Regions from separate parts of the Homo sapiens genome. Here regions 1 and 2 are each linked to region 3. Evidence: fine-mapped expression QTL. A gene starts in region 3. Each other region holds a variant in brackets. All regions are shown on one strand. Distances are from middle to middle.

Evidence for each region. PIP is the estimated chance that this variant, and not a neighbour inherited with it, causes the effect.
Region 1: its variant is the best candidate, but not a certain one, in a credible set for the expression of YWHAQ in whole blood (TOPMed, PIP 0.77).
Region 2: its variant is the best candidate, but not a certain one, in a credible set for the expression of YWHAQ in whole blood (INTERVAL, PIP 0.62).

Annotation. Positions count from the first base shown.
Region 1 is chr2:9,750,521-9,753,275 of GRCh38, reverse strand. LOC124905969 (a long non-coding RNA gene) reads right to left here and starts at 444. Exons shown (of 3, transcript XR_007086205.1): 1 at 308-444. RefSeq lists enhancers at 1-209, 2,102-2,171, 2,472-2,551. The variant T/C (reference allele first, on the strand shown) is at 1,431.
Region 2 is chr2:9,739,209-9,741,963 of GRCh38, reverse strand. It overlaps the pseudogene RNU4-73P. Among named protein-coding and RNA genes, the nearest start is that of TAF1B, 100 kb to the left of the region's middle. The variant T/C (reference allele first, on the strand shown) is at 1,266.
Region 3 is chr2:9,629,760-9,632,514 of GRCh38, reverse strand. YWHAQ (tyrosine 3-monooxygenase/tryptophan 5-monooxygenase activation protein theta) reads left to right here and starts at 1,518. Exons shown (of 6, transcript NM_006826.4): 1 at 1,518-1,574; 2 at 1,981-2,356. The coding sequence starts at 2,063. RefSeq lists silencers at 1,197-1,366, 1,417-1,516, 1,717-2,066 and enhancers at 2,187-2,286, 2,030-2,755.

The DNA.
Region 1 (2,755 bases), 120 kb before region 3:
AAGTGTCATGTCCAGAGCCTCTGCCTGAGCCTGCACCAAGCAGGCACCTCCACAGGTTTTCTCCCCACTTGTGCCCCTTACTTTTGCCCTGGCCTGCGTCCTGAGCCAAGGGACGGAAGGGAAGGTCTGTGGGTCGGTTCCAGGCGGGGGTAGAGCCCTGAGCTGATGAGGGTTCTGAGCCTGGGGTCCACCCTGACAGTGGAGAACCTGCAATGCTGGGCCAGGAGCCTGAACTTCAGGCTGCCAAAAGTAGAGTAACTCAGCAGGGGCGAGTTCCCAGGGCCCGTGTCCCCTTCCTTCTCCTCACCTCCAATAGCAAAGGGAGGGGTCAGCGGCTGCCCGCCTGTGATAAATCCGAGAAGGAGCCCGGCCAGCCCAGATGTAGAAAACGGCCGACTTGCTCTCGGAGTTTTGTAGCTGCTTTGACTAAAAGCAGCATCACCCCCACCACACCCCAGTGCAGAGAAGTGAACCAGCGCTGAGTCACAAAGCACAGCCCCAAACCTGCCCTGGGCCACAGCCCGCCCACCGCACCCCCAGCTTCCTGAGGTTGGGTCATGGGAGCAGAGACCTGAGAGATGAGGAGGTGCATTGAGGTCTGGGAGGAGCATGCTAAGCCCATGGGATGGCAAGAGCAAAGTCCCCCAGCAAAGGACAAGAGAGCGGCCAGGGCAGCCGTGCCCGAGACTGAGCCTGGAGGGTGATGGGCAGCAGGGACTGTCCGGAGCCTTGTTGGCCAAGGATGAGTTCAGTTCTCATCTGAAAGCCACCAGAAGGTTTTAGGCTGGGGAAGGGCAGGATCTCATGCTTTAGAAAGGCACTGCTGGCTGGGCGCCGTGGCTCATGCCTGTAATCTCAGCACTTTGGGAGGCCAAGGCGGGCGGATCACGAGGTCAGGAGTTCGAGACCAGCCTGACCAACATGATGAAATCCCATCTCCACTAAAAATACAAAAAAAATTAGCTGGGCATGGTGGCACGCGCCTGTAATCCCAGCTACTCAAGAGGCTGAGGCAGGAGAATCGCTCGAACACAGGAGGCGGAGGTTGCAGTGAACCAAGATCACACCACTGCACTCCAGCCTGGGTGACAGAGCAAGATTCCGTCTCAGAAAAAAAAAAAGGAAAGAAAGAAAGGAAGGAAGGAAGGCACTGCTGGCTGCGTGGTGGAAACCAGTCTGCTGGAGGGCAAGAGTGGAAGAGGCCATTGCAGTCACTCAGGCCAGCGGAGACGTGGGTCTGGCCGGGCCACGGCAGTGGAGGCGGGAGGAGCGTAGGGTGCAGGGTGCATATTCTGGCTGCAGAGCGGGGTTTCTTGGGGCGCTGCTACCGACATTTTGGACTGGAAGACACTTCACTGTGGGGTCTGGCCTGTGCACTGTAGGGTATTTAGAAGCATCCCTGGCCCCAATCCACTAGAAACCCATAGCCC[T/C]ACCCACCCCCAATTATGACAATAAAACATGTCTCCAGACATTGCCAAATGTGCCCTGGGGGCCACGGTCCCTCTGGGCTGAGAACCACTGCTGCAGAGCCTGCAGAACTCAGGGCTAGATTGTGCATGGATTTGGAGCGAAAGAGAGAAAACAAGCACCACCAGGGGTTTCTCATCTCAGCAATTAAGTGGGGCAGTTACTGAGTTCAGGAAGCCTTGGAGCCAACGGCCGCTGTCAGGTTGAACACTGGAAAACAACATTGGAAACTACAGTCTGGAGCTCAGGGAGTATCTGGGTTGAAGGGAGAGACGGGAATGTTGCTGGGGTGCAGCTCTCCAGGGACAGAGTGTGGACGGAGAAGAGCCAAAGAGACAGCTCCAATGTCACAGCCTCAGAAAGAGCGGACACCAGGCCAGTGGGCCTCACAGGAGCCAGGGGAGACACTTGCAGGAGCAGGAGCAGGAGCGGTCTGCTGGGTCAGATGCGGGGATGTCTGAGTAGCATGCGGACAGTGAGCTGGGTGAGGAAGGAGGGAAAAGCTAAGCCCCTTCCCAGCTGCAGGCTTCCTACCTGCAGCAAGCTCAAGACAGCAGAGGCAAGAAGACTTCATTTTCACTCAAATTCAGGACGGGACATTTAACCTTCCTGCAGTGAGACAGTTTTTATTAACTAAGAGCAACCAGAAACGTAATAGGATTGCCTGAGTTTGCAGCAGTGGCCGAGAAGAGGTGATTCCCCTGACTAAATCAGGACAGAGGAAGGAGTTGCTTTGTGATTTGATCCTGAAAGTGCTGCTAATTCAACGCATTGGCCACATTTGGTCTGTAGGCACAAGGCCAGGGTTGAGAGAGCTGCTGATGGGGGACCTGTGATGGCCTGGAGCCCAGCCCAGCCTGTCAGCTGTAGGTGGGACTTCCCAGACCCGTCCAACCCAAAGCTCCACCACAGAGAGGAGACAGCCATGAACTTGAGTACAGGTAAAACAAAGCAGAATTAGTGAGTGCTACCATCAACCTACATGCTGAACACTGGGGAGAATAGAGGAGGAAGCCACGAGTCTGACAGGGGTGAGGAAGGGTGGAAACCAAGGAGGGCTGCTCTGAGGAGGTGACACTTAAACTGGGCCTTGAAGGGAGAATTTCAACAAGCAGAGAAAGGAAATCATTTTTTGTGAGTTTTTAGGGTACTCCCTCCAGTAACTCCCCTCTCCCCCAACTCAAATGGACTATTGTGATATGGCCAGAACAAAGCTAGGCACTTTCTTATCTAGATTTTTCCATTTCACATGCAAAAGAGAAAAAAAAAATCACCTCTGATTTTTCTC
Region 2 (2,755 bases), 110 kb before region 3:
GTGAAGTACAGCAAAGGAAACCTCAGGACAAGACATGTCCCGATCCATCACTGGAGCCTGAGGTCCTCTTTCTGGTTAAACACGTGAGGCAGGTGCTACTCTTCTCCTTCCTGTATGGATGAGAAGGGCTCAAAGGGTTAAGTAACATGATTGAGGTAACACCAAGGTGAGTACATTTGCCTTAGTCCATTTGCATTGCCATAAAGGATATACCTGAGCCTGGGTAACTTATAAAGAAAAGAGGTTTCTTTGGCTCATGGTTCTGCAGACTGTACAACAAGCATGGTGCCAGCATCTGCCTCTGGTGAGGGCTTCAGGCTGCTTCCACTCATGGCAGAAGGCAAAGGGAAGCCGGTATGTGTAAGAATCACATGGGGAGAGGGAAAGCCAGAGAGAGGAGGAGGAGGTTCCAGGCTCTTTAAACAACCAGCCTTTGAGGGAACTAATAGACCAAGAACCTACTCATTATAACAAGGACAAGGACAGTACCAAGACCTTCATGAGGGATTTGTCCCCATGACCCAAACACCTCCCATAGGCCCCCACCTCCAGTATCGGGGATCAAATTTCAACATGAGGTTTCGGGAGACAAATATCCAAACCACAGTAGCATTACAGCCAGAATTCCAAGTGTGGCTGACTCCAGCCGGTGTATCTGTTGTTGTTCACACGTTACACCCATGAGTCGTCATCCATGCCACCTACTACCAGTGGACAATGACCTCGTGGTGCATGTACCCTCAGTGATCCATCTGGCCACTGCAGAGACAGGTGAGCTTGAAAAGGGGCCACCATGGCCACAAATCAGAAAATGCAGGATCACAAATGGAATTGTGGGATACAATTCTTTGGCATAGAAAGGGCCAGGCAAAATTATGACACAGTGCATTAATAATTAATTAGTGCTTAATCAGGAGCTCTACATAGCAGTTCATTACCCAAGGACACTCCCCATTATAACTGTAGCAAATGGGTCTGGGCAGGCAGCCCTGCCAGCCTCTTTTGAGGCTCACCAGTGACTTTGAGGCTCCCCTTCCAGGGCTGAGGTCACTAACCTCCCCTAGACCTGGCGACCAGTAGCTGGTGTAAGAGGTCCCCAAGAACAGGGGTGATCTGACTCACCCTGGAGAAATTTAAGACACGCTGGGAAGGCAGAGCCCTTGCTTAAAAATAACTCCTCAGATTTCTGCAGTGGCGGTACCATAGCCAATGAGGTTTGCCTGAGACATGATTATTGCTAATTGAAAACTTTTCCCTATAGCTTG[T/C]CATGACAACTTGAAATATAATTGGCATCGAGAATTTTTGAGACTCTCTACAGAGGCTGAACAACCAAAAAAACATAAAAATTTAACTCCTCCTCAGCTTCACTTTGGCACAATGCCAGAAGGACCTCTATTAAGTTGTGCACATTTGTGCAGCCCCCCACCCCCCAACTTCAAATACAAATGCCCATCAGGGAGCTAAAACCTTCTGCATTCGTTGGTTGGAGGAGTCCCCACTAGGGTATGAGTGTTGAGGGTGTAGGGGCAGGAACCACATGTGAGTCGTTGTTGTATTTGCCACACTATGTGACAGGTGGGTGGATGGATAGATGGGTGGATGGGTGGGTGGGTGGGTGGGTGGGTGGGTGGATGGGTGAATAGATGGGTGGATGGGTGGGTGGATGGGTGGATGGATGGGTGGATGGATGGGTGGATGGGTGGGTGAATGGATGGGTGGGTGGGTGGGTAGATGGATGGATGGATGGGTGGGTGGATGGATGGGTGGGTGGGTGGGTGGATGGATGAGTGGATGGATGGTAGGATGGATGGATGGGTGGGTGGATGGATGGGTGGGTGGATGGGTAGATGGATGGATGGATGGATGGATGGGTGGGTGGGTGGGTGGATGGATGAGTGGATGAATGGATGGATGGGTGGGTGGGTTGATGGAGAGACAGGAGTGAAAAATACACAACAGAGGGAGAGGAAAATCACAGTCTATCCTTGCTTGTTTCCAGCAAAGAAGAACGTAGCTCCTGACTGGCTGCCACATATGTGTCTGAGCAGCGAGTTCCAGGGACCTTCTCAGTGATGCCGATGGCCTCTCCAGGCAAATAGCGCAGGCCTGGCCGGTATCCAGAAGGAACTCCAGGCTGCCTCTCCTTCCCGGACGCACACCCTCCCCTGGGGAAAGACCCCAGACAGAGCCCGCGGGGCCTACAAATAGCAGAGTCCCTGGCTCTGAGCACAGGCAACGGAGAGGGGACGGGAAACGGGACTCGGGCGCCAAGTCACTCCCCTGCCTCGCCCTGGCGGAAGGGCAGGCGTCACACCTCTAGGAGGAAGGCAGATGTGAGAGGGCTGAGCCCTTCCGGGGGCTCAGAGGATCAAAGGCACTGACATCCTAAGAGAATTGGAAACCAGAAACAGGGCCGGGCGCGGTAGCGCACGCCTGTAATCCCAGCACTTTGGGAGGCCGAGGCGGGCGGATCACGACAGAGCGAGACTCCGTATCAAAAAAAAAAAAAAGAAAAAACAAAATAGAAACCGGAAACAGGATGAGCTGGGTCTGCAGAAGCGGCGTGTGGGACCCATTCCCCGCAAGGGCTTTGTGGATAGGAACCCAGCACAGACTTCCCTCTTATCAACAGGACCGAGGCATGAGAACACGAGGGTCAGCCTGGGCTCCCTGACCGCAGTCTCCTCAGAAGGGAGTCTGGACAGCGAGTCTTGCCTCTGCTGCTCCTCTGGGGCCTCCTGATGCCTGGCAGGGA
Region 3 (2,755 bases):
TGGAACATAGTAAGGCATTTCTGCATTAAGACACAGGCCCTTTCCAATCCAGGCCGCTCCTGTCTGTCAAAGCACAAAGCAACCTTCACAAGTCAGGACAGGGAGGGGCAGTCAAGAGGGAGTCTGAATTTCTGGAAAGTCGGCACCTTCTCCTCCCATCTGTCTGCACTCTCAAATCTCCCATTCTAGAGATTCTCCGGATTTGCTCCAGTCTCCACTCAGAATGGGAAATTCTTTATGATCCATTCTCCTTAGACCTGCTGGAATCGGGATCATAGCAGCGTGAACCCAGAGGGCAATTCTCATCTTAAGATGGCACAGGGACCACGCGCCAGACGGGCAGGGCAGCCACCCTACCTGGATGGAGTTAGGGAACTGGGGAAGTGCAAGGAGAGACAGGAGTGGTTTAAGAGGAAAGGGAGCTGCCAGGGATGACCCTGAATGGGAGGGGCCTGGGGGAATCTTTCTCGCTTCAGCAGGGTGTTCCCCAGGAGGAGAAAATCAGAAATCAACATCCAGGGAGAGGATTTCAGCTTTTCAAGTGACCTCTCACAAATAATACCAGAAACAAAAGCGTGTGCACATGTGACAACGATGTGAAAAATGATGTATTTAGGTGCATAACCTGGAAAGCCTAAAAGATACATAAAAATTGCTTTTTTTTTGCGGGGAGAGATGTTATGGGCAGGGTTTTTTTTTGCGGGGGTGGGAAGGGGTAGTAATAGGTGTTTTCCTGCAAATTGTGCTTAATGTCATTTCTCATTTTAAAGAAAACCACAATACTTGGCATTGTCACAGAAACTCCCCTGGATCTTCTGGGACCTACCTTTTCACAAGGGAATTTTTTGTTTTAGGATGCCCATCTGAAAACTTGAATTTATCATGTAAATGCCATACTGAAGACACCGTCTCCAGAATCAATTCTTCTTTAATGGGGATGCGGTTTGCTTAATTCGGAGCCCTAATGGCAACGTCATTAAGGTCTGGGTTTAGTGTCTTGGGATCCAAACCTTTGTCACGGATAGAAAGGTGGAGGAAAGAAAGGCCCCCGTGCTCTAAAACAGCTGAATATGTCACCCTCCGAAGTCCAGCCTCGGCCAGAGCCCGTGAGATGCAATGCACCATCCGCAGCGGGAGACGCAGCCGCCGCCTAGGAGGTCGTGCGCGCCTCTGGGTCTCGTGCCGCACCCAGAAGTGCCGGGGTGGCGGGGAGGCTGAGGGGAGTTGGTAACGGCATCGCCATGGCAACAGTGACGTCCTTTTACCCTGGATCTAATTGGAGGAAACCCCGTGGCCGAAGCCGCAGCCTGCCGGCCAACCGAACTTCCCCGTACCGACCCACCCTCCTAGCCTCCGCGTTCCCTCCCGCTCCGCCCCCCTCGCCCCCTTCCGCGCGCTCGGTCCTCATTGGCCAGCGGCGCGCTGGGGGCGGGACTCTCGGGAGAAGCTCGGCGCATCATTGGGCGGTGGACCGCCCCTCGGCCCCGGGGTAGGCTGACACGGGAGGGTCCTCAGCTAAAGCCAAAAGCAGATCAAAGTGGTGGGACTCGCGTCGCGGCCGCGGAGACGTGAAGGTGAGCGCCTGGGTCGGCCCGCGGGCTTCCTCCGGCCGCGCTCGGATTGAGGGCCGGGCGGAGGTGCCGCCCTTGAGAGCAGCCGGTTGTCGATGCCGCTCCCCTCAGGGACGGCTCCGGGCGGGAAGGTGCGGGGCCAACGGTCGCTTCCATCTTGGGCCGGCCGGGCGGGGGTGGCGGGAGCGGCCGCGGCTCGGGCTCCCTGCGCGCGGGGCCTCCGCGCCGCCCCCGCCTCCTCCAGCCGCGGGCCGCGGCCTCCCCGGGTGCCCAGCGGGGGAGGGGGCGGGGGAGAGGGAAATTCAAGCGGCCGCGTGTGCGGGAGACAAAAGCGGGCGGCGGGCCGCATTGTCTGACGGCGCTCCCTCTCTGCTTTTTGTTCTCGCCTCGCCGCCCCGCCCCTCCGCAGCTCTCGAGGCTCCTCCCGCTGCGGGTCGGCGCTCGCCCTCGCTCTCCTCGCCCTCCGCCCCGGCCCCGGCCCCGCGCCCGCCATGGAGAAGACTGAGCTGATCCAGAAGGCCAAGCTGGCCGAGCAGGCCGAGCGCTACGACGACATGGCCACCTGCATGAAGGCAGTGACCGAGCAGGGCGCCGAGCTGTCCAACGAGGAGCGCAACCTGCTCTCCGTGGCCTACAAGAACGTGGTCGGGGGCCGCAGGTCCGCCTGGAGGGTCATCTCTAGCATCGAGCAGAAGACCGACACCTCCGACAAGAAGTTGCAGCTGATTAAGGACTATCGGGAGAAAGTGGAGTCCGAGCTGAGATCCATCTGCACCACGGTGCTGGTGAGTCCTCGGCGCGGGGAGCAGGGGAGGCCTTTTGTGAGATGCTTTTCATTGAGAGTTTCGCGGGCACGGAAACAAACGTGAGCCGGGGCTTGCCGGACTGTCTGCTGGGGTGGAGGGTTTTAGGTGAGCCCTGACTTCCCTACTGTGTCCCTCCGGTTGTTGAGACTCAAGAAGCCGCTTTTCCAAGGATAAGTCCTTTTTTTTCGCCCCAGATGCTGGGTAGCTACCAAACGATGGAACTTGGAAACATCCAAGTAGGTCTCTGCGAGACTGAAAGGCGTTTTTAAGTTTCTTGTGCGGGGAGACTGCGTCCTGAGATCTGTGAGCCCTTTAAATGTATTCAGTCGGTTCACAAGCTTCAGGCAGTTGAAAGAAGGCGCAGGCACCTTTTTGTTA